Linked DNA regions of Homo sapiens: region 1 is linked to region 2. The links come from fine-mapping of genetic effects on gene expression. A gene starts in region 2. The other region holds a variant in brackets. All regions are shown on one strand. Distances are between the middles of the regions. Region 1 has its middle 20 kb from the start of LINC02488. Region 2 holds the start of RASA1 (RAS p21 protein activator 1).

What was found. PIP is the estimated chance that this variant, and not a neighbour inherited with it, causes the effect.
Region 1: its variant is the best candidate, but not a certain one, in a credible set for the expression of RASA1 in putamen (GTEx, PIP 0.78).

Annotation. Positions count from the first base shown.
Region 1 is chr5:87,640,628-87,643,538 of GRCh38, reverse strand. No RefSeq gene overlaps it. Among named protein-coding and RNA genes, the nearest start is that of LINC02488, 20 kb to the left of the region's middle. The variant A/C (reference allele first, on the strand shown) is at 1,508.
Region 2 is chr5:87,266,610-87,269,520 of GRCh38, reverse strand. It overlaps RASA1 (RAS p21 protein activator 1), which reads right to left and starts at 1,638. Exons shown (of 25, transcript NM_002890.3): 1 at 531-1,638. The coding sequence starts at 1,069. RefSeq lists enhancers at 867-916, 674-1,561, 1,615-1,909 and silencers at 1,097-1,276, 1,617-1,866.

The DNA.
Region 1 (2,911 bases), 370 kb before region 2:
CCATGATAAATATAAATTTAACTGATAAAAGGTAAATCTCAAAAATAAGTTCAAGTGAGTTTTTCAATTTTGGTTTTTGTGTCTTCTGTTATTCTAATATAAGAGAAGACACAAAAACCAAAAATGGAAAGAAAGAAATCATCATCAGACCAATTCAAGTATTTTTCCCAGAATTGAAGGAGAAAAGTTTTCAAAGGAAAAGAGCCCATAATAATGGAGCAAATTATTATATACACTCATGCCAAAGTGTATGGCCATGAGATATTGTACTGCTGGTGGAAAAGAGAAGATCATAAAAGCTCTCAGAGTGTGGAAGTAGAAAGATTTCATATGAAGGATCTAGAAGGCCCATCTCTCAATAGTGACACTGGAAGACAAAAGAAAATGGAGGTTCTGTCTTTGGAATGGGAGAATATATTTGCAAATCACTTATCTTATAAGGGTTTAATGTCCAAAATATACGAAGAACACTTACAACTTAACAACCGAAGAAATAATAACACAATTTTAAAATGGGCAAAGGGCTTGAATAGACATTTCTCCAAAGATTATATACAAATCGTCAAGAAGCACATGAAAAGATGTTCAACCTTATTAGTCATAAGGAAAATGAAATCAAAACTATAATGAGATGTCACCTCTTACCTATTACGATGTCAACAATCAAAACAACAGGAAAAAACAAATCTTGCCGAAAATGTGGAGAGATTAGACTACCTTGAGCACTGGTTTTGGGACCGTAAAATGGTACAGCACTATGAAAAGCGGTATGGAAATTCTTCAAAAAACTAAAAATAGAATTACCATATGATCTAGCAATTCCACTTCTTGGCATATATATCCAAAGAATTGAAAGCAAGATCTCCAAGAGATTTTTGCACACCCAAGATTATAGCACATTATTCCACAGATGAATGGATAAACAAAATGTATATATATATATATATATATGAATATTATTCAGCCTTCAGAAAAGAATAAAATCTTGTCACATGCTGTATTAGTCTGTTTTCATGCTGCTGAAAAAGACATACCCGCACTGGGCAATTTACAAAAGAAAGAGGTTTAATGGACTTACAGTTCCACATGGCTGAGGAGGCCTCACAACCATGGCAGAAGGCAAGGAGGAGCGAGTCACGTGTTATGTGGATGGCAGCAGATAAAGAGAGAGCTTGTGCAGGGAGACTCCCATTTTTAAAACCATCAGATCTCTTGAGACTTATTCACAATCACGAGAACTGCACGGGAAAGACCCACTCCCATGATTCAATTATCTCCCACAGGGTCCATCCCACAATATTTGGGAATTATGGGAGCCAGAAGATGAGATTTGGGTGCAGACACAGAGCCAAACCATATCATATGTTACAACATGGATGAACCTTGCATAAATTACATTAAATGAAATAAACACATAACAAAAAGATAAATACTGTGTGACTCCACTTACATGAGACATCTCATGTAGTCAAGCTCATGGAAACAAAAGAGTAAAATGAGGATTGCC[A/C]GGGGGTGTGGGAAGGGAGATTTAGGGAGTTTTTGTCGAATGGGTGTAGAGCTTCAGTTTTCCAAGTTGAAAAAGTTCTGGAGATCTGTGGTAGGACAATGTGAATATTCTTAACACTATTGAAGTGTACACTTAAAAATGGTTAAGATGGTAAATTTTATGTTTTTTATCACAATTTTAAAAATTATAATTTTTTTAAATGAAAGTTCTTTTCTTGTCAAGATAGAATAAATATACTTCAACTTGTCTCTCAAAATGAATGCAACTAAAATCCCAGAAGAGAATATATGGGACAGTTGAGAACTAAGAAGTAAATGATAGTACCACTAAACAAGCAGTAAGTTAACAGATTTTTTTCATTTTTTATTACCTGGCCTGAATGCAAATGCAGTCCGGAACCCAATACTGCATACAAGGTACAGACAGAAAGTGTTTCAAAAGAAGCTCTCTATTTTTGTTATGAGGGATCTCTTTTCGTCAAAGATAATGAGGAACTTTCTGTGTTGTTCAATTTTTTTTTTTCTCTCTCTTGTCTTACCACCCTACTCCGCAGGAGATCACACAGTGGCAGTAGCAGAAACAGAAAAGATAACTTGAAAGATATTTACAATTTCATCAAAGAGAAAACCTCTCTGATCAGAGGACCTGTAGTCACAAGAGCACAGGAGAATCCACTTGCTTTTCCTTTTTATCTCTTTCTATTCTTTTTACCATTTTGCCCTGTAGGTATACAGGGTAATGGAAAGTACATGGCAGAGCCAGAGAAGCAAGAACACCAGCTTTTAGCCAGAGAACCAGAAGGAGAGGGCTTCTGGGAACTATAAGGTGTTAGAGAGAGATGGAGGGAACTTTAAAAAGCAATTCTATAAAGTTGCATATGAATGCCATGACTCACTCCTGGGCCCCATGTGCATGAATATGACCCTGAAGAGCACAGTAAAAGCTTTCAGAACTTAACTGTAGTCTTGACTACAGCCCAGGTCCCAGACTGTCCACTAAGTGGTGTGCATGTGGGAATACCACTGCAAAGGCTTTAAAAATTGAACACAACATACAAAGATAGATATGGACTTGTCTGCACCCAACTGGATCAATTGCCTGCTAAAACAAACAATCAAATATCAACATTCTATATAGGATTTAAACAAGACTAAGAGTTTTAAAATATGATACTTTAAAAGCACGGGAAACAATTCAAAATCACTTGGTGTAGGAAGCACCAGACACATTTCAACATCTCATAAGAAAAATGGCACAAGAGTAACTACACCAAAATGATACAGATATTGGAACTATCAAACACTTTAAAATAGTGAGTATAACCATGTTCTAGGAAGTAAGAGCAAACATCCTTGAAATATATGGGAAAATAAGAAGTCTTAACATGAAAATAGTCAATATAAA
Region 2 (2,911 bases):
GACCCAAAGACTCTTCTGCATCACTATGCTTTCTCTAATCAGAAGCTGGGCTGTGCACTGAAATAAAAACATTCTAACCAATACATTTTTCAAATTATTACTATAGTACTCGTTTAAACACCTGTATTCAAAGCTTCTCACTAATCATCTAGCTTTATCAAGTAACACACACAAGTTAATATACACTATGACTGCCTTGGTAGCCGCAGTTTGACTAAATTCTGGGACACCACCTCAACTTGGAAGGGACAGAACTATATCCGGTTCTCATTAGATACACATTTTCTCATGCTTTCCATCTTAAAGACTTTACACTTTCCCAGAGGAGCAATAAATGTAGGAAGACGCCAGGTAGTATGCCTGTAAGGAAGATAAGTGATCAGATTAAATTCCTACCCAAGAAACCTGAAACTTCAAAAACTTTTCCTAACAAACCACAGATGAAAAGGACAAAGTATGATTTACCCCTTCATTTCCACTTCTTTTCTGGAGCCAGCTTCCCAAATTCCTGAACAGCAGTCTTAACTTACTGGTTAGTTGGAGGAGCGGTCAACGGTATGGCCACCTCTTCCTCCTCGTATTCTGGTCCATCCAGAGAGTCACCTTCGTCCACTGTCCCGAGGCCCGCCCCCAAAGGGGGCAGGTAAGGGGGAGGGGGCAGAGGGGGAAAACCGCCGCCTGGCCCGAGAGTCTCAGCAAGCAACGAAGTGGGCAGTTTGGTGAGAGCCATGTCTCCACTAGGTCCAGCAACAGCAGCACCGGCCACGCCAGCAGCAGCACCAGCTACGCCAGCAGCAGTACCTCCCCCTGTCAGTCCAGCTCCCCCCAGTGCCCCTGCCACAGACCCGGCTCCTAGGAACTCTGACCCCAAAGCGGCTCCGCCACCCAGAGTTCCAGCCACTCCGGTCTCCACCAGCCCAGGATAGGGGGCGGCTGCCACAGGCAGGGCCGCGGGTATCTTCACCCGACACACTGCGGGATAGGCACTGGAGCCCGCTGCCGCGCCGCCTCCTCCAGCTCCGGCTGTTACCGGGCCGCCCTCCTCACTGCCGGCCTCGGCCGCCATCATGTTGAAGCCCGCTCTACTCTGCCCTACCCTGCCCGCCCGGGAGCCCCAGGGGCCACCAGGCCCGGGCTCCGAGCAGCCCCACCCAGACGCGTCTCCCCTTCAGCTCCCCAGGCTGAGGAAACAACAACAAAAGGAGAGAGCCCGCCGCCGCGCCCCCTCCTAGGGCCACAGCCCAGGCTCCCCAGCTGCCTGGGTTACGGGAAGCCAAGTGGGCAAAAAACCCAACGCCTGCACAAACGCCACCCAAACCTCACCGCACACACCCACACTCACGCACACAAACACATGTACAGAAGCGAAAACTTCCTCGCTGCACTAAAGAGGAAAGGAAGCACAGGGAAAGAGGCTGAGGCTGCTACCGCTCCTTCAGCCGCCACCACCGCTTCTTCACCACCCCAGTTCCGGCCACCCACACCGCAGCCACCGCCGGTGCCGCTGCTGAGGCTGGGGCCACTGCAGCCGCTTCATCCTCCACCAGGCAGATGAGAGGGGTGGGGGGGCAAGAGAAAGGGGGGCGGGGTAACGAGGAAATCGACTGAACTGCTCACTACCTGGAGCTCTCAGTGAGTGAAACGGGAGAGAGAGAAAGGAAGGCGGGGCAGGGGAGGAGGGACGGAGGGAAGGAAGGGCGGAGAAGGGAGAGGGCAGCTTGTGCGCAGGCGCGTTCCCGGAGCGGGGGCGGGGGGCCGGGCCGGGAGGAAAAGGAAGAGTCCAGAGGGAAGGAAGCGGCGGGGACGCGCGGTGCGTGGTCGCGCTTGCTGTCCTCCTCCGGTTCCAAGCGTGTGGCGGCGCGGCCGCATCTCCTGTTGGCGTGGCCGGCGGCGCGCGCCTGTCTCCCGGGGCTTTGTTTGATGGGCGGGAGAAGAGGGAAGGGTACCTGAGCACGCGGGTGCTTGGCGCTGTTAAAGCCGGAGAGACCAGAGGGGGACCAGGAGGCGGTGGAGAGGAAGGAGGGGGAAAGGGAAAGGAAAATGCCCAGAAACTAGTTCCGTACTTCCTGACCAGTGGAAAAAACAGCCTTAACCAGCAGCGCAGAAACCGGGCAGGGGTCAGGTAGCTTTGAAGATCGGGGCAGTACTATTAATGTTTTCTTTTTCGTTGCATGCTATAAATCACTATGACTATCTCACACACACACAGTTAAAATAGATTCTGAAACTCCAAAACGAAATAAAGGGCACCATATGAGAAGGGTGAAGAATTTGAGTAGAAATAGTGGTTATGAAGTAAGATTTCTACCAGTATTTGCATACGTTTTTCTTTATCAACTGTCTCATATACTTACCTATGCCATTATAAGTCTGTTGGATACTGATGAAGAGGAGGAGGTGCCACAGAAAACACTAATCAATGCACTTTTGTCCTGGTTTGTGTGCAAAAGACTGCAGGACGTGATCCACAATGCAAGCACCTTCAACAAGTCAAATGTCAAGAATGTCCCAGAATGCTAGTTATAATTATATATCGTTTCAAAAGTAGCAATAAACTGAAAACTCATTTTTAATACAATTAAGGAGAAGGGTGTTATTTTGTCTTTTACACTAAAATGTATACAAACTATGCATTCATGTAGAGGGAGCTTCCCATGGTTTGAAATTAACAATATTGTTAAATTCTCCCAGGAGTGATCCCACATTAAATACCATTGGATATTGATCTTTGAGATCAATATTTTCTGTGCTAAGGATGATCAAACTAACACTCAGGATGGCAAGTGGCTGTGATAGAAACCCAGGAAAAAGAGAAAAGACCACTAAAAGACGTGACAAGATACAGGCAATGCATTGCCTTTGTAAGTTTGCACAGGCCTATTTACCTAGTCAATGACAACAATCCAACTTG